4 separate regions of the Homo sapiens genome follow, and all the other regions are linked to region 3. The links come from fine-mapping of genetic effects on gene expression. A gene starts in region 3. Each other region holds a variant in brackets. All regions are shown on one strand. Distances are from middle to middle.

Region 1 (8,107 bases), 56 kb before region 3:
GATATGCTAATGGACAGTATGTGCTAATGTGTTGTGAGAAAACCGGAATGTTTCATCTTAATTATGGAGGGGAACGCCAGGTTGAATGAAGCCTGTATGAACGTACTACATTCATGGAAACCATTATGAAAAGTACACAACCTGTAGGTGGCATTTCTTCAAGCACTCTAAGGGGAAAATGACTTATGTAACAGAACAAAATAAATGAGGCTAAGGTTTGGGGCTCATTCTAGCTATACTTCTAATTATAATTTACTCTGGGTGACATCTGAAATAAAGATACACATACCTCTTTAGAGGCCATCCAATCTCTTTAGAAGACAATTCAACTACAAAAAGAGCCTAACTGGCCATTTTAATATATCAGGAACAAAGAGAAGTAAGATTCTGTATACAATGTCTGCTTCAAAAAGATTACGTGTATTAAAAAATCAAGAAGAAAAAATCTTAACATTCAATGATAACTTCATGGTCATTTAAAAGTCCAGGACTTAAAAAGGTCTGTCTGTGTAACACGTCTTGGAAAGGGTATGAAGGTTCATCCTCACAGTCACTCAACAGCTGTCTTCTACCAGAACCTGACCACAGGATGTGGCCGCACCATCAGCTGAATCTTCATTTTCACAAGTGACACAGGCCTCCAAAAAAGAACAAAGCAGGCGAGTTACTTGATGTCAATGTCACCTAAAGAGTTTTAAAACAGTAAAAGGCTGGTCACATGTTTCTAAATCCCCAACTTATTCATGTCTGAAAATATTTCATTATAGTTCATTCTTTATTATTATTATAACTATTTTTATTTTTTTTTTTGAGACAGAGTCTTGCGGTGTCACCCAGGCTGGAATGCAGTGGTGCGATCTCAGCTCACTGCAACCTCCGCCTCCCAGGTTCAAGCGATTCTCTTGCCTCAGCCTCCCAAGTAGCTGGGACCACAGGTGCCCACCACCGCGCCCAGCTAATTTTTGTTTTTTAGTAGAGATAGGGTTTCATTATGTTGGCCAGGCTGGTCTTGAACCCCTGACCTCGTGATCCGCCCACCTTGGCCTCCCAAACTGCTGAGATTACAGGTAGTAGACACCGCGCCCAGCCTCATTCTTTATTATTAAAAGGCAAATGACAAATTGTTTAAATACAGTCATGTGCCACATGACGTTTCGGTCAAAAACAGACTGCATATATAATGGTGGTCTTGTAAGATTATCCTACCACATTTTTATGGTACCTTTTCTATGTTTAGATACACAAGTAACACTGTGTTACAACGGCCTACAGTATTCAGGACAGTAACAGCTGTACAGGTTTGTAGCCTAGGATCAAAAGGCTGTCCCATAGGGCCTAGGAGTGATTGTAGCAAGCTACTCCACTGAGGTTTGTATGAGTACACTCTAGGACGCTTGCACAAAACATCCCCATTACTAAGTGGTGAAAGGACTGTGCTTTTGTTTAAATTGCTGTGGGGCTCATTTTTCATATACCTGTCTATTTACAACCAGAACAACACTGAAAAAAACAAAGACACTTACAATAACCAGCCCAGCTCCTGCTTTTTGGTGAGACCCTACCCAGCCATTCTTACATGACAGACACTCATTCTTTTCTTTGAAAATGGAGATGGGGAGATTATTCTGGGAAGATGGCAGAGTAGGAAGACTAGGACTCTGTCTCCTCACCTAGACAACAACTGGACTGACAAAATGAGTCCGAGGTAACTATTTGGAACTCGAGTCTATCTGAACGCCTGCAACTTTCTAGGAAATGCTTAGACGGTAAGCTGTGGTTGCCTGTGGTCAATTTCAGCTTGAAGCACAGCAGCAACTACCCATCCCTGACCTTGGACAAGGCACGTATTCCTGGAGCAGCCTGCACACAGCTTGTGGGAGTCAGAGTGGGCAATAAGGACCCCGTCTTCCAACAATCATAAAACAAGAATCAATAAGCCCTGGGAAAGGGGAGAATCTGGTTTCCAGAATTACTATGTTATTAGATTCAAATGTCTAGTTTTCAACCAAAAAAAAAAAAAATCATTAAGGCATACAAAGAAACGCCAAAGTACAGCCCCAGCTTGTGCGACCCCCTTCCTGCCCATGGGCCACATGCGGCCCAGGATGGCTTTGAATGTGGCCCAACACAAATTCATAAACTTTCTTAAAACATTTTGAGTTTTTTTTAGTGATTTATTATTTTTTAGCTCATTAACTATTGTTAGTGTTAGTATACTTTATGTGTGGCCCAAGACAATTCTTCTTCTTACAATGTGGCCCAGGGAAGCCAAAAGATTGGACACCCTTGGTATAGGCCATTCAAAGGGAAAAATAAACCAATAGCAAAAGTCTCTGAGAAAGACCAGATGAAAGAATTGCGAGACAAAGATTTTAAAACAACTGAAAGATGATCAAAGAACTGGTAGGGCACAGTGGCTCACGCCTGTAATCCCAGCACTTTGGAAGGCTGAGGCAGGTGGATGGCTTGAGCCCAGGAGTTCAAGACCAGACTGGGCAACAGAGTGAGGCTCCATCTCTGGGAAAAAAAAAAAAATTAGCCAGGCATGGTGGTACACACTTGCAGTCCCAGCTACTTGAGAGGATCACTTGGGACCAGGAGGTAGAGGCTGCAGTGAACTGTGATCATACCACTGCACTCCAGCCTGGATGACAAAGTGAGACTGTCTTAAAAAAAAGAAAGAAAAAGAAAAAGCTGGGTGCGGTGGCTCATACCTATAATCCTAGCACTTTGGGTGGCTGAGGCAGGTGGACTGCTTGAGCTCAAGAGTTCAAGACCAGCCTGGGCAAAGTGGCAAAACTCCATCTCTACGAAAATTAAAAAATTAGCTGGGCATGGTGGTGTGTGCTAGCTACTCGGGAGGCTGAGGTGGGAGGATTGCTTGAGCCCAGGAGACTGAGGCTGCAGTGAGCCATGATCATGCCACTGCACTCCAGCCTGGGTGACAGAGTGAGACCTTGTCTAAAAAAAAAAATAGAAAAAAGAAAAAGATGATGAAAGAATTAAAGAAAGACATGGAGCAAAATCAAGAAAACAATGTACAAACAATGTAAATATCAATAAAGAGATAGTAAACCTAAAAAGAAGCCAGAAAGAAATTCCATAAATAAAAAGTACAAAACTGAAATGAAAAATTCACTAGAGGGATTCAAAAGCCGATCTAAGCAGGCAGAAGAAAGAATACACGTATGAAGACCGGACAATTGAAACTGTCAAGTCCGACGAACAGAAAGAAAAAAGACTGAAGAAAAGTCAACAGGGCCTGGAGGACATGTGGGAAACCATCGAGTGGACCAACATAAGCACTACAGGGGCCCCAGAGGAAGAAAAAGAGAAAGAGGCAGAAAGATTATTCGAAAAAATAATGGCTGAAAACTCCCCAAGTTTGATGAAAAACATGAATGTAAAAGTCCAAGAGGCTAAATGAACTCCAACTAGGATGTACTCAGAACTCGGAGATCCACACTATAATTAAATACCGTGCAGTCAAAGACAAAGATAATCTTAAAAGCAGCAAGGGAGAAGCAACTCACACATGCAGGAGATTCTCGATAAGATTATCAGCAGATATCTCATCAGAAACTGTGGAGGCCAGAGGGCAGTGTCCCAGTGTATTCAAAGTGCTTAAAGAAAAAAAACTGTCAACTAAGAAATCCTTTGGCCAAAAGTAAGGGAGAAGTGAAGACATTCCCAGACAAACAAAAGCCAGGGAGTTTGATACCACTAGACCTACCATCCAAGAAATGCTAACAGGAGTCCTGCAGGGTTGAAATGAAAGGACACTGACAGTAACCTGAAGCTGTGTGAAGAAATAGAGATCTCAGCGAAGGTAAATATTATGATTGCAACGACAATGTGCAATTCCACTTTTTGTTTTCTACATGATTTAAGAAACTAATACATTCAAAGAAAACTAGTAGTCTATAAAATCCAGTATTATTTTAACTTTGATTTGTAATCTCATATTTTGCTTTCTATATTATTTAATAGATTAATGCATAAAAATAATTATGTTTTTGGAAACACAACGTATAAAAACCTAATTTCATAACTTCAGTAACTGAAAGAAGATGGAGATGGAGCTCTACAGAAGCGAGTTTTTGTAGGTTATCAAAGTTAAGCTGGTATAAATTACACACTGGAGTGATATGTTAGAATGCTAAACGTAATCCCCATGGTTATCGCAATGAAAATAGCTACACAATATACACAACAGGAAATGAGCAGGGCATTACATTTCACTTCAAAAAACCAACTAAACACAAAAGATGACAGTAATGCAGCAAATGAGGGAAAAAAAAATCTTTATGGCACATAGAAAACAAATAGCAAAATGCCACAAGTAAGTCCTTCTTTACCAGTAATTACTTTAAATGTAAATGGGCTAAATTCTCCAATCAAAAGACAGAGATTGACTGAACCGATTTTGAAAGGCACTATTCAGATATATGCTGCCTACTCACTTTAGATCTAGATACAGATAGGTTGAAAGTGAAAGGATGTAAAAAGTTACTACATGCAGATAGTAACCAAGAGAGTAGGTACGTCTGTAAGTCAGTCACACCAAGACAAATAATGTATGATTCCACTCATATGAGGTGTGCAGAGTAGTCAAATTCATATGGCTCTTG[C/T]CTGTAATCCCAGCACTTTGAGAGGCTGAGGCGGGCAGATTACTTGAGGTCAGGAGTTTGAGACCAGCCTGGCCAACATGGGGAAACCCCATTTCTACAAAAATTAGCTGGGCATGGTGGTGTGCGCCTGCAATCCCACCTACTCTGGAGGCTGAGGCAGGAGAATCACTTGAACCTGGGAGGCAGAGGTTGCAGTGAGCCAAGATCACACCACTGCACTCCAGCGTGGGCAAGAGAGCAAAACTTTGTCTCAAAAAAAAAGAAAAAAGAGAAAGTAGACCAGTGGTTGCAAAGGGTTGGGAGAAGGAGGAATGGGGAAGTTATTGTTAAATGGGTACAGAGTTTCAGTTTTGCAAAATGAAGAGAGTTCTGGAGATGGATGGTGGTGATGGTTGCATAATGTGAAAATATTTAATATTCTTGAATTATATACTTAAAAATAGTTCAGAAGGTAAATTCCATGTTATGTGTATTATACCACAATAAAAATGTTAGTTTTTAAAAAGAGGGGGTAGTAGGATTTCATTGTCTTGCTTACTTCATAAGCCTTAATATCATACTTTAACACCTAACTTTACTCTCTTTTTTAAAAATATTTTTACACACACACACACACGAATTATTTGTCTTTTTTGAGACTGGCTGGAATGCACTGGCGAGATCATAGCTCACTGTAGCCTCAATTTCCCAGGCTCAAGCAATCCTCCTGCCTCAACCTCCTGAGTAGTTGGGACTATAGGTGCACGCCACCACACCTGGCTAATTGTTTTGATTTTTATTAGAGATGAGGTTTGGCTATGCTGCCCAGCGTGGTCTCCAACTCCTGATCCTCTCACCTTGGCCTCCCAAAGTGCTGGGATTACAGACGTGAGCCACTGGACTAGGCCTACTTGTTATTAACTTGACTCTTCAACCTCCCATATCTTGATACTTGCGGGAATAAAGATCTCACTACTAGTACAACCATCACTACCATTACCACAGCTGCCACCAACACTGGTTGGGACCATTGGTAAATCAAAGCTTTACTGTTCAGGCTATTCACAAATAATCTCATTGAGAAGAACTCATAACAGCAAAAAGACACTTAAGTCCCATTAAAGTTTCTGCTTAGTATGAATACTACCTCTGGTGTGAATCTTACATCTTTTTTTAACTCTTTTCAAACAATGCAGACATATTTGAAATACATAACAAATGACCTATCAAATGCAGTCAATCACACATCAAAGCAGGTGTTTTTACTCTTTATCGTACCCTAACATTCCAACTGGTAGAAGAAAAAACCACCTGGAGGCAAAAAGACCTGTATTCAAAACCCAATGAACTGCATGGCCTTGTATTAATTATTTCACATGTGTATAACCTGCTTGTTGCTTATTGGTAAAGAGGGAATAATAACACCTACCATAGAGGTAAACTGTGAGGATTAAAGTTTTTAGTGGGATCATGCAAGAACACGACCTATATTAAAAGCACTACCTGGCCAAAATACATGAGTATATGACAGCCATTATTACTGTGCTTACTTGAATGTCGATTTCTTGAGTGACAGTCTGGCTTTGAATCCAATTATACACCTTAGCCAGCTCCTCCTTTTGCCCATGAGAAAACTGGGGCTGCTGCTGCCTCATACTTTCTAGCTTTTCCAGGTCTTCTTTTAGTACAACTTCTTTAACCCTGAAAACAAACAAACAGAATCTTAATAGTCCTGAATAAGACACAGGGTTCTTTTCCCGTCATCTAGGAATAGCACTTCTTCTTGGTTGGTAATACACCTTACATTTTCTAACACATGAGGCATACATTAAAAAAATAACTAGATCATTTCCTTTTCAAGTTGGTAAAGGCTTTTTTCTTGGTGGAAAATATCTATATGATGTTTTAATGAGGTGTATGGAAGAAAGAGATTTCCCTTAGCTCTTTTTAGAAGGGGCAAAAAAATCAAGAGTCTAAAACAAAAAGTTCTTGTACTTGTGTGCCATCTTGGAAAGCACAGACTTTGTTTCTTTGTCTCATGATGTGTAAGATCTGTTTAGTCTGGATCTGAATAGAGGTAACATTACCACTGCCACCCTTATTTTAAGAAATCATTCATCACTTGACTTCAAATGAATAAATTTGAAGACACATTTCTCAAAGGGAATTTATAAAACATTCAATAATTATTTTGTCTTTAAAAACACATTAAGAAACCATAGGCCGGGTGCAGTGGCTCACGCCTGTAATCCCAGCACTTTGGGAGGCCGAGGTGGGCAGATCACCTGAGGCCAGGAGTTCAAGATCAACCTGGCCAACATGAGGAAATTCCATCTCTACTAAAAATACAAAAAACTAGCTTGGTGTGGTGGTGCATACCTGTAATCCCAACTACTTGGGAGGCTGAGGCAGGAGAATCTTGAACCTGGGAGGTGGAGGTTGTAGTGAGCCGAGATGGCACCACGGCACTCCAGCCTGGGCGACAGAGTGAGACTCTGTCACAAACAAACCCCGTCTCTACTAAAAATACAAAAATTAGACACGCATGGTGGTGCACATCTATAATTCCAGCTACTCGGGAGGCTGAGGCAGAAGAATCGCTTGAACCCAGGAGATGGAGGTTGCAGTGTGCTGAGATCGTGCCACTGCACTCCAGCCTGGGTGACAGGGCGAGACTCCGTCTCAAAAAAGAAAAAAAAGAAAAAAAGAAACCACAAAAATATAAAAAGTGGGTTTTCTAAAGTGCTTTCTTACCTCTCAGGTACCTGGTATGTCATGAGAATGCGCTCAGGTGTCTGCCGTATCATTCTCCAGATGGGCTCTTCGGCGACATTAGGAAATGTTTCTTTTTTCTGTACGTCCTGAGATTGCTGCCCATTTTGGGAGATTTTAGAAGAATAAACACTACTAGTAAGGTATATACTGCTGTCGCTGCTTCCTGTCAAAAATCAACAACACATAATTAGAAAAGACCTGTCCGACTGATTTGCCAAACTGGCTCTCATTCTTCAGACTCTTGCCTCGGACAGTCCTCCTCCTCAGCCAGCCCAACCATCATTTCCGGGAAACTTCCTCCTCCCTGTGGACAGCCTCCTGGTTCTTTGGTCTTCCTGAGATCTCTTTTTCCATTCCTAATGAGCTATCACTCTCAAGGCTACACACATTGTCCTTTATCATCACCCATAACCGCTCCATCTCCAAAATCATCAACATCTCAGCTTCACTCTCTCATGGGCTTGTTCAATTATTTCAACTATAAATGTGTTAATAACGTCTTAGTCTTCCTGTAGTGGAGTCCTCAGTTCATCATTCAGTAACACACCTTGCAATACCTTAGACTTCTTTTTCCCTCTGACTTTTCATAACTGTCAAAATGCCAACTCCAATAAAGCCAATTATTGACTTTGTTCTTACCTAAACCCAAGTCGCCAAATACATACAGAAAGTCACATATAACAGGGTACAGTGTTTCTACAATAAACGCATCATCACCAACC
Region 2 (8,107 bases), 73 kb before region 3:
TTGAGATAAGGCCTTGCTCTGTCACCCAGGCTAGAGTGCAGTAGTGTGATCTCGGCTCAGTGCAACTTCTGCCTCACAGGTTCAAGCAATTCTCATACCTCAGCCTCCCGAGTAGCTGGAATTCCAGGTGTCCACCACCATGCCCAGCTAGTTTTTGTATTTTTAGTCAGACAGGGTTTCACCATGTTGGCCAGGCTGGTCTCGAACTCCTGATCTCAAGTGATCCTCCTGCCTTGGCCTCCCAAAGTTCTGGGATTACAGGTGTAAGCCACCAGGCCCAGCCCGGACTGAGCCTTTTAAACATAATTTAGTCCGACCATGGTGGCTCATGCCTGTAATCCCAGCACCTTGGGAGGCCGAGGCAGGAGGATGGCTTGAGCCAGGCATTTGAGGCTGCAGTGATTAGTGATTGCACCACTGTGCTCCAGCCTGGGCAACAGAGTGAGGCCCTGTCTCGAAAAATAATAATAATAGAAATAAAACACAGTTTAGATTGTGCCATACTGTTCTTCAAAATGGACCTCCTATCTCATTTTAAAACAGAAAGTCCTTACGGTGGCTTCCGGAGCCTGTGTGACCTGCCCTTCTGCATCTTTCTGGCCTCAACTCCCACACTTCTCCCCTTTGATCACACTGAACCACACGGGCCTCCTGGCTGTTCCTCAAACAGGCCTAATACAGTCCCACCCCAGGGCCTTGGCACTCGCTGTTCCATCTGCCTGGAGGCTCTTTCTCTCAGCTAGCTGTGAGGCTCTCTCCACGTTTCCTGCAAGCCTACGCTGACCCTCTCCAGGAAAAGAGCCCGTCCATCCCATCGCCCACCTGAACCTACTTAGTTATCTGTGGCATTGATCAGCACCTGACACTGAACATAAACTCGGTGAGGCTTGGTCTGTTTTGGTCATTGCTACATCCCTAGTACCCTACACAGTCCCTGGCACATGCTCAATGTTCGTTGAATGAGTGAGAGAATAACATTACTCACTGTTCAACAAACACCCTTGTCGTCTCCTCATTGCTATATATATATGTATGCATTTTTTTTTAGACAGGATCTCGCTCTGTCGCCTAAGCTGGAGTGCAGTGGTGCAATCTTGGCTCACTGCAGCCTCCGCCTCCTGGGATCAGGCCATCCTCTCTCCTCAGCCTCCTAAGTAGCTGGGACTACAGGTGCATGCAACCATGCCTGGCTAATTTTTCATATTTTTTGTAGAGACAGGGTTTTACCATGTTGCCAAGACTGGTACTGAACTCCTGGGCTCAAGTGATCTGCCTGCCGTGGCCTCTCAAAGTGCTGAGATGACAGGCATGAGCCATGCCCAGGCTCCTCATTGCTGGTAAATGACAAAACCCCGAATTCCTCGATATGGTCACGTGACATAGCCCCACTGATCTCTGGTTTTATCTGGCTGTGTCCAGCCCTTGGCAAACATGCTGGGCGCATGGCTCAGGCTGATCCCTCATCTGACCCCAGGGCCTTTGCACTCACTGTTCCGTCTGCCTGGAGGCTCTTCCTCTCAGATAGCTTCGAGGCCCTCTCCACATTTCCTGCAAGCCTATGCTGACCCTCTGCAGGAAAAGAGCCTCTCCTGTGAAGTCCCCACCATTCTCCCCACTATCTCTTGAGGGGACCAGCACGGGGCCTGTGACCCCCTCAGGGGTTATTGCTGCAGCTGACAGACGAGGCATTCAGTAGTCACTTAAGCCAAATGGTTATCTGAAATATAGGTGACTAGAAACGAAATCTAGAATTCATGTAGATTAGATTAAATTAAAATTTTAATTAATTTTAATTAATATAAATTAAAAGTCTATCTGAGAGCCTCTAACCTATGTTTTACATGAACACAAGTAAGAATGGACCCCGATGATGTCTGCAGGAAGTTCAGAAGTTCAATGTCAGTTGAATATGAGCTGCCCTGGTTTCAGGTATCCTCAACTTCTCTGGACCCAAGTCTGCGCATAAAAATGGTACAAACATTGCAGTATTCAAAGCACACACAAACATATTCCTCACAGATCACCCCAAATTATGATATTTATTTGGCAATCAGTGAATAGGCTTTAAATATTTGGCAAAGTCAATTCCTATCAATTTCTCTTCATGGAATCCCCACAACCGAGGAGAATCAATGTAACCTCATATTCAGAAGTTATGACCAGCTGGGCGTGGTGGCTCACACTGTAATCCCATCACTATAGGAGGCTGAGGCAAGTGGATCACTTGAGGCTAGGAGTTTGAGACCAGCCTGGTGAACATGGTGAAACACCATCTCTACTGAAGATACAAAAATTAGCTGAGTGTGGTGGTGCATGCCTGTAATCCCAGCTACTTGGGAGGCTGAAGCGTGAGAATAGGGACTTGCTTGAACCCTGGAGGTGGTGGTTGCAGTAAGCTGAGATCGCACCACTGCACTCCAGCCTGGGCGACAGAGTGAGACTCTGTGTCAAAAAAAAAATAATTAATAGAAGTTATGAGCATATTATACAACGACAAACGTGTCATCAGGGAGAGGGAGTTTAGATTAATTTCAAAACTAAAACTGAAAAGAGGTTTGTAATTTTTATGATATGCTTATCCAGTGGATGGGAGTGCTCCATAGACAAAGCCATCCCAAATATTAATGGTTTACTTCTTTATGACACGCAGACAATGCCCCTCTCTTTTCAGAAGTTACTTTGTTTGCAGCTAATTAGAGGAATCCCACTTCTCAGGGTGGTCTTTGTTCATGTATGTCCTGGCACAGATGTGAAGCCATGCTGCTTAATGCAAGGGCCATTAGCGTGGAATGACGTGCTCAGTACATTTCTGGGACAAGGTGACACTGTCATTGATGGTCTGTTGAAGGAAAGAAGCTAATTTTCTTTTAAGCGTAAGCCTTTAGTAGTAATTTAATTAGGCCATGCTGTAAAACCATCACTAATAACTGTCAGAAGTACCCCCTGAGTCACCAGGGAATGACAAAGCTTGGCAAACAGCCTCTTCCTTGGAGCCCCAGAGTTCATCTCCCACCTCATTTTGAAATGGTCCTCACGGGTCTTCAAAGACCCCTGTCTCTTGGCCTGAGTCCGTCCTTCCTCTTTGTGAGACTTCATGAGTGCTTTACATATATATAAACATGCATGAGCATAAACATGCACATGTAATACACAGACAGACAATGTAAAACAGCTTTTTTTTTTTTTTTTTTCTGGAGACTGGGTCTCACTCTGTTGCCCAGGCTGGAGTGCAATGGCATGATCACGGCTCACTGCAACCTCAACCTCCCAGGCTCAGG[C/T]GATCCTCCCACCTCAGCCTCCCAAGTGGCCCAGACCACAGGTGCACAACTACTCCTGGCTAAGTTTTGTATTTTTTGTAGAGACAGGGTCTCACTAGGTTGCCTAGGCTTGTCTCAAACTCCTGGGTTTGGCAATCTTCCTGCCTCAACCTCCCAAAGTGCTAGGATTACAGGTGGGAGCCACCATGCTGCATCAAAACATTTTAAGAAAAGAAAAAAATCCCTTTATTTTCAATTCTGTAAAATGACACCACCAGTGCTTGCCCACAAGCTCATCTTTTTTTTTTTTTAACATAGTAGTAACTACCTGATATTCTAGTTCTTTTATTATATTTTCCAAGTTTTTATAATCTTTTGGTTACTATTTTAATGGTTACCAAAATTACATTTTGATACTTAATGCACTTATTTAGGGCATTGAGGCCAAAAGGTTGAATTACAGGAGAGATGGAGGATTGTGGGGAGAGCAAGGGTGAGTAGGGAGAGGAAGGAGGGAAGAGGGAGGAGTCAAGTCACTGAGGGCAGAGGGCAGAGGTCAGAAGGCCAGTGGGATCCTGGTCCCTGCTCCTCCACTTTTCCTGGGATTCTGGAAGCTATCCAGTGTCTTTCCAACATGCTTCACCTTCCTTCCTTCCTTCCTTCCTTCCTTCCTTCCTTCATTCCTTTTCTTCCTTCCTTCCTTCCCTCTCTCTCTCTCTTTCTTTTCCTACAGAGTCTTCCTTTGTGGCCCAGGCTGGAGTGCAATGGCACGATCTCGGCTCACTGCAACCCCCACCTCCTGGGTTCAAGCAATTCTCCTGCCTTAGCCTCCCAAGTAGCTGGGATCATAGGCGCCCACCACTACTCCCGGCTAATTTTTGTATTTTTAGTAGAGATGGGGTTTCACCATATTGGCCAGGCTGGTCTCAAACGCCTGGCCTCAGGTGATGCACCTGCCTCGGCCCCCCAAAGTGCTGGGCTTACAAGTCTGAGCCACCGTGCCCGGCTGTTTTCTTAAATTGGATGGAAGTGGTTTCTCTTGGACGTTAGGTTCCGTCCTCTGTCCGACCCTGCTGGCACATGGGGGTGCTGAGAAATATCTGTCGAAAGAGTTAACAAGTCTTAAGTGATTCGAGCACTTTCCATCTTAGAGGACAGTGTGCGAGCACTCGCCCTGGGCTCTCCTGCCAGCAGGGGTCCCCCAGGGACTCTCTTCACTTTATTTGCCCTCGCAGGAATCTTCTTTCAGTTCCTCCTCCTCGGAGGCCACGCTTCCCCGACTTCTCTCGCTGGAGGCTCCACACTCCACTCACCACTGAACGGATGGCTGCCCTGTTCCTTTCGGCTCCTGCTCAGATGCCCCTTTTCCAGGGCATCCCGAGGGCCCTGTCTGAAATCACACTTGCCCTGACTACCTGCCCCTGTACTGTCTCCTTGTTATTGTTCTTCATAGCAATAAACAATTCCTACAGCGTATGTTAATGTTGTTGTCTATCGCCTCCAGTCAGAAAGTTCATGAGAGTAGAAACTTTTTATTTTGTTCACCGTTCTTTCCCCTAAACAGAGACTCCCATAGGCTGGTGCCCCACTCACTGATTCAACAAATATTTATCGAGTCTGCCTACTATAAAGGATAAATACATAAAATAGTGCGATAGCCAGGTGTGGAGGCTCACACCTGGAATCCCAGCACTTCCGGGGGCCGAGGCAGGAGAATCTCTGGAGCCCAGGAGTTTGAGGCCAGCCTGGGCAACATAGCAAGACCCTGTCTGTACAAAAAATAAAAAAGCCATGCATGGTGGTTTGCGCCTGTAATCCCAGAGGGTTGGAAGGCTGAGGCTGAGGCAGGAGGATTGCTTGAGGTTAAGATTTTGAGACCAGCCTGGGCAACACATTGAGACCCCATCTGAAAAAAAAAAAACTAGCTGAGCGTGGTGGCATGTGCCTGTGGTTCCAGCTATTTGGAAGGCCAAGGTAGAATTGCTTGAGCCTGGGAGGTCAAGGCTACAGTGAGTCATGATCACGCCACTGAACTCCAGCCTGGGTGACAGAGTGAGATCCTGTCTCAAAATAATAAAATAATAATAATAATAATAATAATAATGGCCAGATGTGGTGGCTCACACCTGTAATCCCAGCACTTTGGGAGGCTGAGGCAGGTGGATCACTTAAGGCCAGGAGGTCAAGACCAGCCTGAAGTCCTTTTCAAACCTTTTGTCATATTGCCCAGGCTGGAATACAGCAGCATGATCTCAGCTCACTGCAACCTCCGACTCCCAGGTTGAAGCTATCCTCCTGCCTCAGCCTCCGGAGTAGCTGTGACTACAGGGGCCCGCCACCACGCCTGGCTAATTCTTTTATCTTCTGTAGAGACAGGGTTTCACCATGTTGGCCAGGCTTGTCTCAAACTCTTGACCTCAGGTGATCTGCCCGCCTCAGCCTCCCAAAATGCTGGGATTATAGGCGTGAGCCACCGCGCCTTGCTCGGCTTTTTCATTTTCTTACCAGTATCTTGAGCAAATGTTTCTAATTTTGATAAAGTCCAATTTATCAGTTTTGTTCATCTATTGATTAATTTACAAAAATGGTATCTATGGTATACATCATGACTTGTTTGTTTGTTTTGAGAAGGAGTTTTGCTCTTGCCACCCAGGCTGGAGTGCAGTGGTGTGATTTTGGCTCACTGCAACCTCTGCCTCCCAGGTTCAAGCAATTCTCCTGCCTCAGCCTCCCAAGTAGCTGGGACTACAGGCACCTGCCACCACGCCCAGCTAATTTTTGTATTTTTAGTGGAGACAGGGTTTCACCACATTGGCCAGGCTGGTCTTGAGCTCCTGACCTCAGGTGATCCACCTGCCTCGGCCTCCCAAAGTGCTGGGATTACAGGTGTGAGCCACTGTGCCTGGCCATGATTATTATTATTATTATTATTGTTATTAGTTTGATGTTTTGATATATGCATACATTGTGGAATGGCTGAATCAAGCTAATTCGCATGTGTATTACTTCACGTTTTTAGCATTTTTTTGTGATGAGAACACAAAATCGATTTTTAGAAATCTTCAACTATACATTGTTATTAATCAGAGTCACCCTGAGGTACATAGATCTCTTGAACTTATTCCTCCTGTCTCAATTTTTTTCCTGTGTGATTTGTGTCTTGTCTAAGAAATATTTGCCTAACCTGAGGTTGTGAAGGTGTTCATGTTTTTTCCCCTAGTAGTTCTATCATTACGTTGTAACCACTTTTCTTTCTTCTTTTTTTTTTTTTTTTTGAGACATGGTCTCGCTCTGTCACCCAGGCTGGAGTGCAGTGGGACGATCTTGGCTCACTGCAGCCTCAACTTCCCAGGCTCAAGTGATACAGGCATGCACCACCACACCTGGTTAATTGTTGTATTTTTGGTAGAGACAGTGTTTCTCCTTCTCTTTTTTTTTTTTTTTAGACAGAGTCTCGCTCTGTCACCCAGGCTGGACTGCTGTGGCGCAATCTTGGCTCACTGCACCCTCCGCCTCCTGGATTCAAGCAATTCTCCTGCCTCAGCCTCCTGAGTAGCTGGGATTACAGGCACGTGCCACCATGCCTGGCTAATTTTTGTATTTTTAGTAGAGACGGGGTTTCACCATGTTGGTCAGGCTGGTCTCAAACTCCTGACCTCGTGATCCATCCGCCTCAGCCTCCCAAAGTGCTGGGATTACAGGCGTGAGCCACTGCACCCGGCCGAGACAGTGTTTCTCTATGTTGCCCAGGCTGGTCTTGAAATCCTAAACTCAAGTGATCCTCCTGCCTCGGCCTCTCAAAGTGCTGAAATTACAGGCATGAGCCACCGTGCCTGGCCTATCTTTGTAACTTTTGTGTTTAGGTCCACAGAAAGTTTTGAGCAAAGAACTACCATGATCTGACTTATGCAGATGCTTCTGGCATCACTCTGCTGTGCTGAGCCTGTGGCAGGCCCGAAGGCAGACTTCAGGACGCCTGTCGGGGACCTTTCCACCCATCCGGGCTTGGACCAGCTTGGGCAGAGTACAGTTGGGAGTAGAGGCCACATTCTGGAAATGTTTATCAGCGAGTTTTCTGGTGTTAAGTCCTTCCTCCCTCCTTGCTGAATAATAATCAACTTTATGAAGTTATTTCCTTTCTCTGAAGATTGAAGTGCTTGCGGCTTCACATGAGGCCACGTGTATGTACAGAATTGTCTTGAGCCTGGAGCAATGTTTGCTATGTATTTTAACTTTTCACTGTTTTAAAGGAAATAGCTGGTTTTACGTTTTAATCCACAGATTGTCATTCTTCAGGGATGGCAGCCCTAAACACAGCATGGCAACTCATCTACTCACTCATGAAAGATTAAAAAATGGAAACCAACGTATTTCATCTTATGCTCTGCGTCACTTCTGCTCGGACTCATAAATCCACGTCTCTTTGCTTTGGCCACTTCAACTCATATCCAAGCCTTCCTTTAATTCATGATTTATTGCTGTAAGTTGCCTCTTTTGCCAGATTTATAAACTCACTGTTCTTTATATAATACCTACTTTGTACACTAGGCAACAAGACAGTTAATTTATTGTCTATGACTTGTTACCTTGAAAAATTACATCAATGCAAAGTGATTGCCTTTTAGCCTCCATAGCCAATAAATTCATTTTTTTTTTTTTTTTGGAGAGGATGATGTCAGGTCATAGGATGATATATATAATCAGTGAGCAGGCAGAATGAGGAGACAGTTGAAAGTTCTCTACAACAGAAGCCAAGAAGGAAGCCGTCTATCTTGTGGCGATCATGTATAAGCTGGCCTCCTGCTGTTTGCTTTTCATAGGATTCTTAAATCCTCTCTTATCTCTTCCTC
Region 3 (8,103 bases):
GATTCACCTTCTTCAAGAAGCTGTCCTTGACAAACCTCATTACATAAGCATCACTGCTCTAATTTTTTCCATTACACATAAATGAAACTTATTTATAATCAGCAGTTTGTGTTTGCTAGCATTGGCATACTTTCCTCTCTAGCTTTATTTTAAATATCTTAAAAGACAAATATTTTCTTAAGCTATTTTTAAAAATCTCCATAGCACCTCCTACAGTACTATGTACACACCAGTCCATAAAATAAGCACTGTTATAATACTAGGGATTGCGCACGTTCCACTATTACAAAATCTTTAAGTAACAATTATGTTACTTAAAATAAGTAATCTCCACCGTATCAACCAAACATGAAGATTACTCTGTCAAACAAGAAGAGAGATTAAAAAAGATATACTAAAGGTCTCTTCCAAAATTTTAGGAAAAATGACAGCATCTCAACTCACCTGTTCTATAACATCCAGTTGTTACAACTTGAAGTAGTAGGTATTGGAACTAAGAATGATATAAATAGAAATTAACAATTCGGAGATTAGAATAAGGTGCAGGAAATTACTCTGCAGTGTAATTTTTGTTTTCTCTTAATTCAAGAGAGCTTGGGAATGCTAAGGAGCTAGAAGCACCTCATAACCAAAGTCACTGAGCTGCACAGCACACAGAACGGGCTGCTTCTGCTTTTAGATGTTTTCTCTGGCAAGGGCGGAGAAGCTACACCATGCCTCTTTAGCAGTTCCTCCTTTGCTTCTCTCAAATTGTGGTTGCTGAAACGTTGTTATCCTTCTTAAAAGCCTACATCTAGAGCAGGCCCTTAGGAAAAGTCACCCAGGTTGATATGGCAAAATGCATGAATTCTTACTGTGTTTTTGGAAGTGTGTTCTGAAGCGATAGTGGCCAGCTCCTCAAGACTGTACATGCTCACATCTGCCTGAGGTGCTCCATTCTGACTGAGAATCTGGAAAAACTCACTGTTTGCTAAGAAACACAGGGAGATAAACAGGTAGTCCAGTGACAACAGTATCTTTAGGAAACCATTTCATCACTATCAAGCTGGATTATTTTTTTCGGATGAGAACACCTCAGTGCATTTTTCTCAAAAACAGATCATTTTCTGCTTTTACCTAAAATACTGATAGTTGTGCAAACTTAAGATTTGATTTTATGAATTCTGCATGTTCTGGATCACAGGAAGCAAGATACATTTAAGGTACTAACTAAAAATTTCAGATGCATACACAATTTTTTTGCGGGGGGAGCAGAAACAGTACTCTGTCATTCAGGAACATATCATATATGAAGCACTGAGGTTTGTGCTAAAGAGAATATGGCTTTAATGAAATCCCTGGAAATGTCAGAGAGAAAAAGTGTTTACAATGGTTCATTTTTAGTTTGGTAAATTCCTGATATATCATTACTGCATTTTTATCATTATTATTTTTTAGAGACAGAGTCTCGCTCTGTCACCCAGGCGGGAGTGCAGTGGCGTGATCTCGGCTCACTGCAAGCTCCGCCTCCCGGGTTCACGCCGTTCTCCTGTCTCAGCCTCCCGAATAGCTGGACTACAGGCGCCCGCCACCACACCCGGCTAATTTTTTGTATTTTTAGTAGAGACGGGGTTTCACCGTATTAGCCAGGATGGTCTCGATCTCCTGACCTCGTGATCTGCCCGCCTCGGCCTCCCAAAGTGCTGGGATTACAGGCGTGAGGCACCGCGCCCAGCCTCATTACTGCATTTTGAAAGTATGTGTACGGCATGTAAAGGTAACTATTTCGTGGAATGCATTTTTTTCCCATAACTTCCATAGAAGACAATATTTCTTTAAAAGGTCAGCCTTCAAAATGTGCTTATGCTAAACTCTACTCTCTTGCAACACATGAGCAAAACATTGCATAGGTATTATACACTATTATACAGATAAAGTTTTCCTGGTCTTTCACATGTGAACAATTAAGACACGAATGGAATCGGTGTAGATTTGCTCATCTTCCACAAAGCACCAGAAAAAGCTCAAATTATTTGTCTGACTGAGACCCCACTGACCACTCCTCTGGCTGCTTGTATGAGTCCTGGTGCATTCGTAGGATGAAATTTCTCTCCGGCTTGTTTACCTTGAACGCTGTGGACACAGCGGAGAGCATAGTTGAGGGCATCTAGAGTGCTTGGTTTATTGCGTCTCTCCGAGGGGAAGTATTTTTTCATTTCTTGGACAACCATGATAAGTTCTTCAGAAACTCTGTTTCGATCTTGCTGTTCACTGGAAGATAAAAAAAAATTACAACTTCATCCTCTGAAGACAACAGCATCTTGCGGCTTAGGGAACACAAACTGCAAGCCAGGTAAGTTTCTAAGTGCTCTACCGGCATCAGTCCACAGGGTGGTGACCCCTCTTCCTCTAGGTGGGGAACTCGAGGCAAAGCAACTGGTGAATGACAAACATTCTCCACTTACTTTCCCTTAATCCACTTGAGCCCCAACTCAGCTAACTTTTGTAACCACTTTTCCCTCCTGATACTCTTCGGTAATTTTCTTCAGTGTCACGGATCACTTCATCCTACATTGCCCGAGTCTCCCCTTTACACTTTCCCCTGGGCTTGAAAACAAAAGAATAAAAAGATTTAGGTCCCCCTTTCCCTGCTCCAGGGAAGGACAACGAACGCATGGGGCCCTCGGCCTGAAGCCAGCGCGTCACCTGTGGCTGCTGTCCGCCAATTTCCTCTGCAGATGGAACTCGGGGCTCCACCGCTCCCCCGATTCTTCGCCCAGGGCCTCGTCCTTAGCCCCCCGTCTCCCGGGGCCAGGAGCTTCCCCGCGGGGCATCTCGAGGTCTCCGCGGGGCTCCACGTCGTGCTGGGACGGCCCGCAGCCTGCTTCTCGCTCACTTTGCAGTCAGTGACAGACACCGGTTTCTCACTCCGGTCCCCGCCATGGCGTTAGTGAGAACAGGCGGCCACCACGAGCCAGGGGGTCACGCTCATCTCCGAGGAGCTTTTCCCTCCAACATTTTCAAAACCCGGAGCTCGCTCGACTTTCAGGACTCCGGCCTAGGGGGAGGAGACAAGGGTGACAAGGGACAAATGGAACAGACAGTCCGACGCCAGCGGCCCGGCTGGCTGGGGCGCCCCGACCGCGCGGTCCTCACCCCTGCCCCAACTTTCCCGCGCGCCGAGGGATGGGGCCCGGGGAGGCGGGTGGCTCGGAAGCGCCACGCTCCGGGGGCCCCCAGTACCGAGGGCAGGGCTCGCGGGGCTCCTCTGCCGCGCGCGAGTGCCCAGAACTCCCGCCCGGCCGCCCAGAACTCCCGCCCGGCCGCGCACTCACCTGCTGCCCCCGCCCTTGGCCCCGCGCACAGCCGCTCGCCCCCGGGGCCGCCCTCGCGCAGTCTCGAGGCTCGCCGCGTGCCGGTCAGCAGCCGGCGCCGCGCCCCCTGCCGCCGCGTGACCGGTCCCGCCCCCGGGCCGTGCGATTGGTCGTCGGGGCCGACTCCGCAGGCCTCCATTGGCCCTGGGGCGGGGCGCGAGCCGGTGCGCCCGGGTTATATAAGCCAGGGCGAGGGGGCGGGGCCCCCGGGGCGCGTTACATAACGCGCGGGCTCGGGCGGAGGCCGGCGCTCGGCCAATCCCAGCAGGCCGGCGGGCGGGCAGGGGACGGGGTGGCCCTCAGCGGCCTCAGGCCTGTGCCGCGCGACTGGAGTGTCCGGCCCCCTGGCACGGCGCCGGGGCGGAGCCGCTGAAGCCAGCGCAGAAATGATAGGGCCAGGAAGCTGCCAGCCACGTGGGGGCGGGACCCGGGCTCTGTGGGGCGGGGCGGGTCCGGCCCAACCTCCACGTGAGAGGCGGGCGGGGAAGGAGAGGGGAGTGAGAGGCGGGGGCAGAGAGGGGCGAGAGGCGGAGTCGGGGGGCTTGAGTCGGGGTCAGGGGGAGGCTGGAAATGGGGACGGATGGGGGCGAGAGGCGGGGACGGGGGGGCGGATGGGAGCGGGGGTGCCGAGAGACGTGGGGAGCGAGAGGCAGGGGCGGGGGGGCGACGGTGTCGAGGGCGGGGGCATTAGAGGGAGGGAGAGGCGGGGACTGGGGGCGAGCAGGGGCGGCTCAGGCCAGCGCTCTGGGGTCGAGTCCTGGAGTTTGTAGGTGGCTCCCGGCTGCCCGAGCGGGTGTGGGGAGGAGCCCAGGGTGGGGCGGGCTGCCGGCAGCGGTCCTCATCGTGCTTTGGCCGTCTTTCTGGGTTCCCACGGTTTTCACCGCCCGTGACCTACCGAGCCCACCCCAACCGCCCCCATCCTCCGCTAACTCTTTCGGTGAGTGGGGTGGACTTGGAGGAACCGGGCCATAAAGCAGCCCTGGTAAAAAGCCCACCCGATTTTTAGAAACAGATTTTTTATTTTTTGAGACAGGGTTTTGCTCTGTTGTCCAGGCTGGATGGAGTGCAGTGGCGCGATTTTGGCTCACTGCAACCTCCGTCTTCTGGGCTCAAGCCAGTTTCCTGCTTCAGCCTCCCGAGTAGCTGGAACTACAGGTGCAGCCACCACACCTGGCTAATTTTTGTGTTTTTGGTAAAGATGGTCTGTGTTAGCCAGGCTGTTCTCAAACTCCTAAGCCCCAGTGATCTGCTGGCCTCGGTCTCCCAAAATGTTGGGATTACTGGCGTGAGCCACTGCACCGGCCCAGAAACAGAATTTTGACGGTGGAACTTAAAACACTTCCCTGCACTTCCTAAAATTAGATTCATTTGGCAACTGGAGGAAGACAAACGTAAAAGACACTCTGTTTCAGAAAAGAAGTTGTAGAGCCCTTTAAAAAAAATGTCTGAAAGCTCAGTTTAGTATCTCAACATGTTAGAAATGAAAGGTACAGTGCAGAGTGCCGCCCCTCTTCGCTGCCTGGTACAGAAAAAATATTCAGTATTTGTTGGATGGATGAAATTGTATGTAAAGGAAGAGGGGAAAAGTGAGGTGAGTGTTCATGTTAGGTATTGAATAAACCACCTTATATCTTCCAAGCGATACTCTAGGTTGGCTTGCTCTCCTCCGAAGCTGGGTTTTGTCAAACTGCATTCGTTCAGCAAGCATTTATTGCGTGCAGATCTGGGTAGGGACGCTTGGAATCCCAGCGGATAGAACAGTGGCCCAAAGTCCCTGCCACCCAGGGAGTTGACGTTTTATTGAGAAAGCCATACAAACAACCCCATAAACAAGTTCATAAAGCCTAAAGCGATGTGTAGAAAACAAACTACTGGAAGGAAGAGTAACTGGGAGAAAGGTGGAGTGGGGAGGCCAGAGCCTGCTTAGTCAGATCAGCAGGGCAGGCCTCTGGGAAGGCGGATTTCAACCTGAGATGAGAGGCGCCTGCCGCGAGTGGGGAAGGCGGATTTCAACCTGAGATGAGAGGCGCCTGCCGCGGGTGAGGAAGTAGACCCGGCAGAGCTGAAAGTACCTGCAGAAGACCTTTGGAAAGAAGTCAGTTTGCTGATGAGAAACCGAAACAAACTTTATCAGGTCCATTTCTCCCTCAGGGCTTCCTTGCCTGTTTTCATTCATAGCTAACTCTGGCCTTCAAGCCACACCCTGATGTTGAAAGTCTCATGGGCACAAGTCTCTCCGATGTCAACAGCTATACTTTGGTGGAGTACCTTGCTTGGAGAAGAGAGAGCTGGAGAGTCGTGTGACATGAAGTCAGAAAACTAGAAAGGACCAGATCATCGTGGGACCTGTAATTCGGGAAAGGGACTTGGATTTTCCTATTGTAAACATAAGCAAAAGTCCTCTTCCACCCGTATTATATTGTTTCCTAGGGGTTCTACGATAAGAATGGAAATACATTCATGAGGAAAAAAGGATCTACAGGAACAGAGCCATGTGTCTGGGGATGTCCCTCACCTATCCACTCATCTATCCCAGGGTCCATGCCAGCAGCCATCTAGTCTACCACAGACGGGGTCGGCTCTGCACATCACTTTAGAAAGACCATCTATTTAGGGAACTCCAAAGCCACATCCTGAATTTTGGTAATTGTGTAAAAGCCAGTTTCCTCCTCATCGCCTATACTAAAAAGCACTTTTCACAAGGGGAGCGGTTTTCTTCTGTTCACTGGGGTATGCGGAAATGCTGGGTACCAAAAGGGTAGAGTACCTAGAGAGGGGCTGGTGAGAAAAGGGGGAGACAGTTTCGGGGCTTCTAAGGGACAGGTATGGGGAGCAGCAAGGAATGGCATTTTTAGGACTCGGACCAGGTGCAGCTATTCCTCTACAAGGAGCACAGGTGCCACAATCATGTTTATAAACACTTTATTTAGGTGATTACAGTGGGTAAGTTCCCAGCTAAGTGCACAGATAGAAGCGAGGTATTTCTGGGTTAATGCAGGAGCCAGTGGGTTACATGGGTCTGGGCACTGTGGCCAAGGGGCGAGTACCAAGGTTTCTGAGTCAGACCCGGCCAGAGACCCTGCGCTGAAGGTGGACTAATGTCCTAACACTGCCAGCTGCTTTCTCCTCACAGCTGGCCACACCGCAAGGCATCTCTTCAACAGTAAATCATTTCAGCGATGTTAAGGGAACAGACGTTAAAGAAATGGAAGCTGTGTCCTGGTGCGCCTCAGCTGTTGCTGCTTTATAAGTCATAATAGCATGTGAACAAGAGTTTTAGAATATTCCAGTAACAATGAGCCACAGAGCGATAAAGTCTGTGTCTTTCTCCCTCAGTGCCTCCTTGCCTGTTTTCTTTCATACCTGAATTCCCATCTTTAAGCTGTGGATCCTGATGTTGAGTCTCATGCATACAAGAAAAGTTTTTCCGATGACAAAGTTTCTGCTTCCAGCATTCCCATCAACAGCATTCTCTGCAGTTGATGATATCAAAGCAAAGGTCTCTGGTTGGCTACTCTCTGTGAAAAGAGCCATTCACCCCTGACCAATGCCTAATTGCAGGCATAATTTAGAAAACTGATTTAGGAAGCAGAATGTGAATACAAATAGGAAACAAACTCCAAAGTTATAGTTTATCTTCATATTTGGGCCAGATAATGATCAAGTTCACAGGTGGTCTTACTTGAGGCTACAGAATTGTTGCTTGCATAATTATCAGAAACATGCTGGAGTCCACAGCTGATAATCTGCCAACTGCTGGGTAGAACTCTTTTATGAGACGGTCAGAGTCTACCTCAAACCTTCTCTAACCCCCATGCAAAATACTGAATCAGAAGGGGAGCCACACTGTCTACAGCCTTTCAAAAGGAAGAAAGGCCTATGAAGATGTAGAAGGTTCACACACAAGGTAATGATTTTAATTCTGAAGGGGCACCTTGAGTTCCATTTGGCACGTTTCTGAATTTAACTGTCAGGAATACACTTAAGGCCATTTTATCGGTATTTAACTTTTTGGCAAAATAGAAGCTTTGGTCATAGCCATAGTTCTTTAAAAATTTTTTTAAAGAGGTTATCTCTGATTAAAACAATATTTTTAGCAAGTGATACATAACAATAACAACAATGTAAACATCTTCAAATCTAATGCAAGAGCAAAAGCTCTTCACCAGCATCTTAAATACAGCGAGAGTCAGTAGTGCTTACAAAAAGTAGAGGGTTCTCTTCTAGGGAATCAGAAAATTATCAAAATAAGGCACAGCCTGTTGTTATCACAGATTTGTGTTAGGCAGTAGTGTTTTTTTCTGGAAGGCATAAGTTGGAAATCTGATTACCCAAAGGTTTAAAATGTGGTTCTGAAAATAATGCCAAATGACAAGGGTAACTAACTGGGAGTAATGGCAATTAATTAGTGACAACATTACATCTAGATTATAGCACTCTGGAACTTAAGAAGGCCTCTTCATCAGCCCATACGTAAATCTGTAAAGGCACTGTGCAAAATGTGGACGGGGCCGGCCTTCTAATTTGGAGTGCATATTAAAAAACAAAGGCACGTTTCCTAGAAATTCAACTTTACATTAACACAAAAAAAATTTTAGAGATAACAGTAGGTAAGCTTGATAATATAGCAGGTTCTAAGTCAAAAGTCTTGAAGAGGTTTCTTGAACAGCAGTTTTGAGTTCCGCTGGTTCTTCATGAAGAGACAACCCACACTAAGAAGGAGGAGAGATGCAAAAAGGCAGGGGAAACA
Region 4 (8,107 bases), 36 kb before region 3:
TGCCTCAGCCTCCTGAGTAGCTGGGATTACAGGCATGCATCACCATGCCCAGCTAATTTTGTATTTTTAGTAAAGATGGGGTTTCTCCGTGTTGGTCAGGCTGGTCTCAAACTCCTGACCTCAGGTGATCCGCCCGCCTTGGCCTCCCAAAGTGCTGGGATTACAGGCGTGAACCACCACGCCCGGCTGCTTCATAGCTTTCAAAGCTGTTATTAATGAATATACATTTATGACTGTTATGTCTTCCTGATGAATTGACCACCTTGTCATTATGAAAAGATGTCCTGGAATCTATTTTACATATATTAATAAGGCACTGCAGCCTTCTGATGCTTACGGTTTCACTTGTGCATCTTTTTCCATTCATTTACTTTCAATCCATTTGTGAATTTCACTTGTACTTTGCATATAGTTAGGTCTTGATTTTTAAAAATCTGTTTTGAGAATTTTTGCCTTTCATGTATTTACTTATTTTTAGAGACAGGGTCTTGCTCTGTCCCTCAGCTGGAGTACAGTAATGTGATCAGAACTCACTGTAGCAACGAACCCAAGATGAGCTCAAGCTAGGCTCAATTGATCCTCCTGTCTCAGCCTCCCAAGTAGCTGGGACTACAGGTGTGGGTCACCACACTTGGCTAATTTAAACATTTTTTGTAGAGATGGGGTTTCACTGTATTGCCCAGGCTGGTCTCAAACTCCTGGCCTCAAGCAATCTTACCTCCTTGGCCTCCTGAGTCCCTGGGGTTACAGTTGTGAACCACTATGCTTGGCCCAATTTTTGCCTTTTAATTGAAGTGTTGAGTCAATTTTATGTCATTATTGACATAGCTGCATGCAGAGCTATTATCTTATTTGGTTTGTTCTCTCTGCTTCTTTTTTGTTAATCTATTCCTCCTTTCCTGCTCTTCTTTGGGATTGAGTTTATTTTAAATTTGCATTTTATTGATTGGCTTAGTCATTGTATCTCATATTCCATCTTTTAAAAAATTATTTTAGGGCTGGACGCTGTGGCTCACGCCTGTAATCCCAGCACTTTGGGAGGCCAAGGTGGGCGGATCACCTGAGGTCCGGAGTTCGAGACCAGCCTGGCCAACATGGTGATATCATCTCTACTAAAAATACAAAAATTAGCTGGGCATGGTGGCGGGGCCTGTAATCCCAGCTATTTGGGAGGCTGAAGCAGGAGAATCGCTTGAATCCGGGAGGTGGAGGCTGTAGTGAGCTGAGATCGCACCACTGCACACCAGCCTGGGTGACAGAGCAAGACTCCTTCTCAAAAAAAAAAAAAAATTTTTTTTTAAATTTTTTGTAGACAGAGTCTCACCATGTTGCCCAAGCTGGTCTCAAACTCCTGCATTCAAACAATCCTCCTGTCTTGGCCTCCCAAAATGCTGGGGTTATAGGCATGAGCCACTGTGCCTGGCCTACATTCCATCTTAATTAGACCCTGCTTTAGGTTCAAAGTATCTGTAATGGCAACGACTCCTAGAGACTAATGGTCAATACTTGATTCCCTACTCTACTACTCATGGGCTGTGTCATATTGGGCAAGTGAAGTTACTGTGCCTAATTTGTGGTTTAATTGTTCCACACATAAAATGAAGACATTAACTTGCAAGGAAATGCATTTGTGACCATCGTCCTTAGACACAACTCATCTGAGTCAGGATGCAAACTGAGCTAATGAATATGAGCTTTTCAGAAAGCAAAAGACATAGAGATATGTTTTAAGGAATATCTGGGCTCTGATTCTGCTTTTTCTCCATGGAATAAAGATGTGGCCCTGTAAATGTTGAGGCTGATTTAAGATCAGAAGAAACTAATAGCAGTAAAAATTTCCTAAAGCATATAGACTTTAGTATAAATTCATTAAAAACGGTCATATAAGAGCAGAGTATAGAAAGCAGAGTGGCAGAATATAAAAAAAAGAGCTTTTCATATTGGGTGATACCCTCCCTTCCTGTATGGGCTGTATTATGAACAGCTACATGCCCACACAGGAATGCAAAATATTAAAAGGCACACTAAAAAATGTGCATATGCTCCTCTGTGGAGGGGCTAGCTCAGTTCCAGTGAAACTCTACTTTTGACTAATTAGAAACGTAATGCTCTCTGATCTTTCTCCACCAATCCACAGATCTCCTGTCAGTACCACACTCTCCATCTCACAGGTTGTTGGAAAGATTTAATGAGATCATACCAGTGAAGAACTAAGAGCAGACAGTGGCACACAGAAATGGCTTAACACGTATTAGCTGATAAGCCACTGAAGACTAGCAAAGATAAAGCAGAGATCATGTGAAAACCCAATTTAACGTATTTGTCACCATTCCTTCATCTACCCAAATTGTTATGAGTGATGAAAATGTCAAAAGGACAAGTGGCAATAAAGAGGAATAAGAAGACAGTAGAATAATTTACCAAGAAATTATGGTATTAAATGAAGAGTTTTAAAGTACTCTATTCATTGCCATCACAGCAATACAAAAATCTGAAGGTATGTGTGACTGAGCTCATCACAATACAGGATGGTGAAATGCAGGTGAAAGGAACACATTCTGTGAAAGTCAGCAAGGAAGTAACCTAACACAGTGCCATCAATAATTGCATTAATAATGGCTAACACTAATTGAGGGCTAATACCTACCTACTAGGTACTGTATTAAGTGCTTTATATGTGTCAACTGATTTCATTGACAAATAACATAACTGAGAAATACTGTCCAAAATATGTAACCAACATAAACATGATAATGTTTCCAGAAATACTTTAACTGAACTAAAGAAAGGAAAAAATATGTGTAGTTTAGAAGTTACAACCGAGCGAATGGTATTCATGACTTTTGTTTTCTCATCACAATGTAGTTAAAGTTGAGTATATTTTCAAAGTAAGAGGCGAGTGTGGTACCTGTCTCTGGGGGTGGGACATGGACAATGGTGCTGCTGTAACCGCATTGGCTTATGCCCGACCCCAAGCTCAGCATCGCCGTGGACAGGATCTGTGGAGCTCCTCCTCCTGTGTCTATGGACCGTCCATTTGTTGGCATTTCTGATTTAGGTATGGCTGGGATTTGCAAACCAGCTGGTGGTGTAAGAGAAACTGACAGTGAAAAGAAAAATTCCCAACGAGAAATTTACATAAAAGACCCAGTTTACAGAAGTTTGTAACTGAGAAATTAAACCTTACTGTCATAAAGAGGTAATATGAAACCAGAATTTTATGCTTATAACAATATAAGACATTAAAGAGAAACAAGAAGGATGTATTTACAGTTCTTTGAATTTAACTCTGAGGGGCATTCTTGTTACCTTGTAAGGCTTGGACATCATCTGCCTTGTGGTTCTGTTTGTCTTCTTCTGAGGAGGAAGAAGTTGTATTTGTACAGGAGATACACTTTCTTTTCAAAGCTGGAATGTTGTAGCTCTTCAGGTATCTGTAACAACATAATTAGGCCACACATTCTTACCTGTTCCCTAATTGTGCCATTTCCCACCTCTTTGCTTTTCTCATGCCACTTATGTTTGGCATACTTTGTACTTTCTTCTTTGATAAAGTCTTCCCTGACCATCCCAGCCTCAATCACTGGATTGTAACATTTCTTTTACTGTGGTCTTGAATTAACCTTCAAATCTTATACCATGGGTGTCCAATCTTTTGGCTTCCCTGGGCCACACTGGAAGAAGAATAATTGTCTTAGGCCACACATAAAATACACTAATACTAATCATAACTGACGAACTAAAAAAAAAAAAAAA[T/AT]CACACAAAAAAATCTCATAACGTTTTAAGAAAGTTTACATACTTGTGTTGGGCTGCACTCAAAGCTGTCCTGTGCCACATGCAGCCTGTGGGCCATGGGTTGGAGAAGCTTGCCTTACACCATTTAATTTTGACAAAATTAGGTCTTGTCTTCTGAACTATACCACAGTTCCTTCAAAGAAGGAATGCATCTTCTAGCTTTTTGTGCCTTCTGAAATGTTCAGCGTATGTGTTAGGCACGCCATAAACGTCTACTGATTTATAGTGAAAAACCAAGTCAGAGCAGCTATTAAAAATTCTATGAAGTCTCTACAGTGGCAGTGTATGCTTCCGGAACAGACTTACATGGTATCCAAACTTGCGGTCTCATACCTGATGACACTGTCGATACAGTTGATCTGTTGATAGGATGGGCTGTGCTCATCGTTCCTCAAATCCTCACAGGGCTCAGTGTACACACTATTGTTTTTCAGTGTTTGGTGGAAGGAAGTAAAGGTCTTACATTCACCTGAAACAGAATAAAGGGATGTGCAATTAAAAGTACCCAGCATGTAATTAAGAACATATACTTTCTTACCAAAATTAAATCATGGCACTTTATCATGTATATATCAACAGAATATCATGCGGCTATTAAAAATGAGTGCAGATCTAAAATGCACTAATAGAAAGATATCCACAACACGTAATGAATAAAATAAGGTGCAGAGCACATTACACATAGAATGGCTACGATTGTATTTAGAAAAATAAGGAATGAAACAAAAATTTCCAACAAAGATTATCAAGGAATGAAACCATAGGTTTAAGGTTGATGGGGAGCTTTCCAATGTTAAGCTGACGCTTCCTGTACAACTGATCAACCCTGGCAATCACTAAGGGTGGAATGTGGGAAGACCTGTGCATCTTACGTGATGCTGTGTGAAGTACACAGCATCTCCCAGGTGGAGCCTGTGTCCAACAGAACTTTCTGTGATGACTGATGGATTATTTGTGCTGACTAGTATTATATGTGCTAACGTAACTATTAAACACTTGGAATATGGCTAAAGCAACTGAGAAACTAAATGTTAATTGTATTACATTTAATTGTATTGAATTTGAATTTAAATTGCCACATGTGGCAAGTGGCCACCATTGTAGATGTAGTAGTTTAGAGAGAAGAAAAAACCTCCAGGCTTAAGCACTAAAAACTTCCTATAAAGGACAATGAGCCAATAAAGGAGACTGAAAAAGGGTAGCTGGAAAGATAACAGAAAATCCTGCAAGGTTTGGCCTCACAGCGACCAAGAATGAAAACTTTCTTAAGGAAGGAGTAACTAATTATGTCATGTACTACTGAGAAGTTTTGTAGAAGTGTTAGATGCTGGTCATTTTTAGCTGGCTTGGAAGAGGCTTCTCTATTTTCAGAGCATATTATGGAAAAATGACTGTATTACCTTTCACTCATTAATGATTTTTAACTTTTAATTTTGAAATAATTTTAGACTTGAAGAGTTGCAAAAATAGTACAATAGAGTTCCTATATGCCCATCACCCAGCTTCCACTAATGTTACCATGGTCTACAACCATAATAAAATGACCCCAACTAGGAAATGAACAGTGGTACCATTCTACTAACTGGAAAACAGACCTTCTTTGGATTTTATCAGTTTACCACTCAATGTTGTTTTCCGTTCAGGGTCAGAACTTTAGTGGGATGGCCTTCGATTTGAGTTTCTCTGATGTCTTCTCATGATTAGATTGAGGTTATGCATTTGGGGAGAGAATGCGGCGGAGGTGCAGTGTCCTTCCTTGTGCATCATCCCAGGGTACATGATGTCAGTATGTTTTGTTACCTTGTTCATTGGTTAACATGGTGTCTCTCAGGTTTGTTTGTCCTGTGTAAAGTTACTATTTTACAATGTAATAAATAATATGTTTTGGAGGAATACTTTGAGATCACGCAAGTATTCTGTTTCTTTTAAACTTCTCAAAGTTTAAGTTCTCCATTAACCTTTCACCTCTATTTCATTCCTTGATAATCTTTGCCTGAACCATCTGTTTTATTCTTTATTTGGTATAATATACTAACCCGTGTCTATCCATCCCTCTGTATATTAAACAAAAGGGGCATGAGTCCACACTGAAACTGTTCGCGCCAATCCAGCACCATGGAGTTCCTTCCCTTCTGCTTTGTGTGGCTTTCCTGATAGTGAGGAGTCTGGTCATCGTTATCTATAGCGGCTTCCACAATTTGTTCAACCCTAGTATAAAGTCGCTTTAGAATTGCTAACCCATACTCTGGTGGGAAACGAATACACCAACTTGCGTACAGTGTTTGTGCACATTCATAATTTTGTATTTAGCCCTAGGAGATACAGTTGAAGCACTGTTTTCCAAAGCTACTGAGCTCCGTTCTTCCCCACCCCTTCCGTGTGTTTAGGCCTGTCATCTGTAATGCAGTTGGACTCAGTTGTCAATGCCTGCATCTCATCTTGGGTTCTCTCTGCATTTTGGGGTGAGATGGAGTGCACAAATCTGTGGGTTTTGGCAAATGCACGGAAAGTTGTGTATCCATCACCACAGTAACCAAAAGAACATTTCCATGACTTAAAAATGTCCTTACAGCTGTCCCTCTGTAGTCACCTCCTTCTCTACCCAATCATAGTAAATACTGATCTGTTTTCCAGAGCTAGAGCATTCCAGAAAGAACGCTTTTCCAGAATGGAATTGTACAATATGTAACCTTTTGGTTCTGCCTTCTTTCACTTAATGAAATGTATTTAAGATTTATATATACAATGGTCTGTGAATCAAGTTCATTTCTCTTCACCGTTAAGTAGCATTTCACTGTGTGGATACACATAGCTTATCCATTCTCCTGCTGAATGACATTTGGGTTGTTTCTGTGTTTGGAGAGTAACAGTGTAATAAATATTCATGTACAGGTTTTTGCGTGAACTTAAGTTTCTATTTCAGTTGGGTAAATCACTAGGAATAGAATTGCTAAGTTACATGGTAAGAGTATGTCTAACTTTATGGGAAATGTCAAACTTTCCCAAAGTGGCTGTACAATTTGGCATTACCTCCAACAATAGGTGAGTGCTCTGGTCACTCTGTGTCCTTGTCAACACTTGTCAGTTTTTTAAAAAAACTTAGCCATTCTCACAGATGTGTGGTGTTATCTCATATGGTTTACATTTTTTTTGTCTAATGACTTAGGTTCAGCATCTTTTCATATGCTATTTACTGTTTATGTATCTTCTTTGGAAAAATGTTTCTAATTGGGTTGTCTTCTTGAGTTTTGAGCGTTCTTTATGTACACTGGATATAACTTCATTATTGTATATATCATTTGCAACTATTTTGTCTTTTCATTTGTCTTATCAGTGCCTTTCAGATAAGATTGGGTACGTTCAGGGTGGTATGGCCATAGTTATCAGTCTCTTTCAAAAAGGAGAAGTTTTAAATTTTGATAAAGTCCAACCTGTCCTTCCTTTCTTTTCTTTTGTTCAGTATGGCTAAAGACTTATTAATTTTATTACCCTTTGATTTAACTTAGTTTCTCTTCAATTCCATTGATATCTGGTCTTTATTATTTCCTTCTTATTGCTTACTTGTGAAACAATTTGTTCTTTTTTCTCTTATTTTTAAGGAGGAAGCTTAGATTACTGAGTCGAGACCATTCTTCTTTTTTCCATATAAACACTCAGTGCTGTAAATTTCCCTTTAAGCAGTGTTTTAGGTATATCCCACATATTTTATGTTCTCTTTTCATTTTGTTCAATTCAATTTTTTTTTTTTTTTTTTTTTTTTTTGAGACGGAGTCCGCTCTGTCGCCCAGGCTGGAGTGCAGTGGTGGGATCTTGGCTCACTGCAAGTTCCACCTCCTGGGTTCACGCAATTCTCCTGCCTCAGCCTCCTGAGTAGCTGGGACTGCAGGTGTGTGCCACTATGCCTGGCTAATTTTTTTTTTTTTTGTATTTTTAGTCGAGACAGAGTTTCACCGTGTTAGCCAGGATGGTCTCGATCTCCTTATCTTGTGATCTGCCCACCTCGGCCCCCTAAAGTGCTGGGATTACAGGCGTGAGCCACTGCGCCCGGCCCAAAATGTTTTTATTTCCCTTGAAACTTCCTCTCTGACCTGTGGATTATTTGTAAGTATGAAGTTATTTAATTTCTGAACATTTGAGGATTTTCTGGATACCTCTGTTACTGATTTCTAGTTTAATCCATTATGGCTAGAGAATAAACAGCTCTGATATTAGATACATAAACATGTAAGACTGTTCTATGTTCCTAAGGAATCAACTCCTTTATCTGTTACACAGTCTCTCTTTCTAACTCTACTAACATTCCTTGTTCTGA

Direction of the effects. Alleles are on the strand shown, and positions count from the first base shown. SD is a standard deviation of normalised expression in the study named. Not every link is listed here.
With allele T in place of C in region 2, the expression in whole blood of the gene that starts at base 3,400 in region 3 is higher (moderate effect, 0.42 SD a copy in Lepik 2017).
For the expression in lymphoblastoid cells of the gene that starts at base 3,400 in region 3, AT is the high allele of the variant in region 4 and T is the other (moderate effect, 0.45 SD a copy in TwinsUK).

What was found. PIP is the estimated chance that this variant, and not a neighbour inherited with it, causes the effect.
Region 1: its variant is fine-mapped to the expression of PER3 in blood mononuclear cells (TOPMed, PIP 0.96).
Region 2: its variant is fine-mapped to the expression of PER3 in whole blood (Lepik 2017, PIP 0.95).
Region 4: its variant is fine-mapped to the expression of PER3 in lymphoblastoid cells (TwinsUK, PIP 0.95).

Annotation. Positions count from the first base shown.
Region 1 is chr1:7,835,203-7,843,309 of GRCh38, reverse strand. It overlaps PER3 (period circadian regulator 3), which reads right to left. Exons shown (of 22, transcript NM_001377275.1): 20 at 7,365-7,548; 21 at 6,161-6,311; 22 at 1-638. The coding sequence ends at 555. Among named protein-coding and RNA genes, the nearest start is that of UTS2, 14 kb to the left of the region's middle. The variant C/T (reference allele first, on the strand shown) is at 4,632.
Region 2 is chr1:7,852,937-7,861,043 of GRCh38, reverse strand. UTS2 (urotensin 2) reads left to right here and starts at 7,979. Exons shown (of 4, transcript NM_006786.4): 1 at 7,979-8,107. The coding sequence starts at 8,041. RefSeq lists an enhancer at 7,771-8,107. The variant C/T (reference allele first, on the strand shown) is at 3,279.
Region 3 is chr1:7,779,588-7,787,690 of GRCh38, reverse strand. PER3 (period circadian regulator 3) reads right to left here and starts at 3,400. Exons shown (of 22, transcript NM_001377275.1): 1 at 3,315-3,400; 2 at 2,686-3,037; 3 at 2,105-2,250; 4 at 855-970. The coding sequence starts at 2,813. It overlaps VAMP3 (vesicle associated membrane protein 3), which reads right to left. Exons shown (of 5, transcript NM_004781.4): 5 at 6,259-8,065. The coding sequence ends at 8,046. RefSeq lists a silencer at 3,325-3,934.
Region 4 is chr1:7,815,442-7,823,548 of GRCh38, reverse strand. PER3 (period circadian regulator 3) reads right to left here. Exons shown (of 22, transcript NM_001377275.1): 14 at 4,129-4,264; 15 at 3,310-3,434; 16 at 2,909-3,082. The region is part of intron 1 of LOC124903833 (a long non-coding RNA gene); the gene reads left to right. Among named protein-coding and RNA genes, the nearest start is that of UTS2, 34 kb to the left of the region's middle. The variant T/AT (reference allele first, on the strand shown) is at 3,757.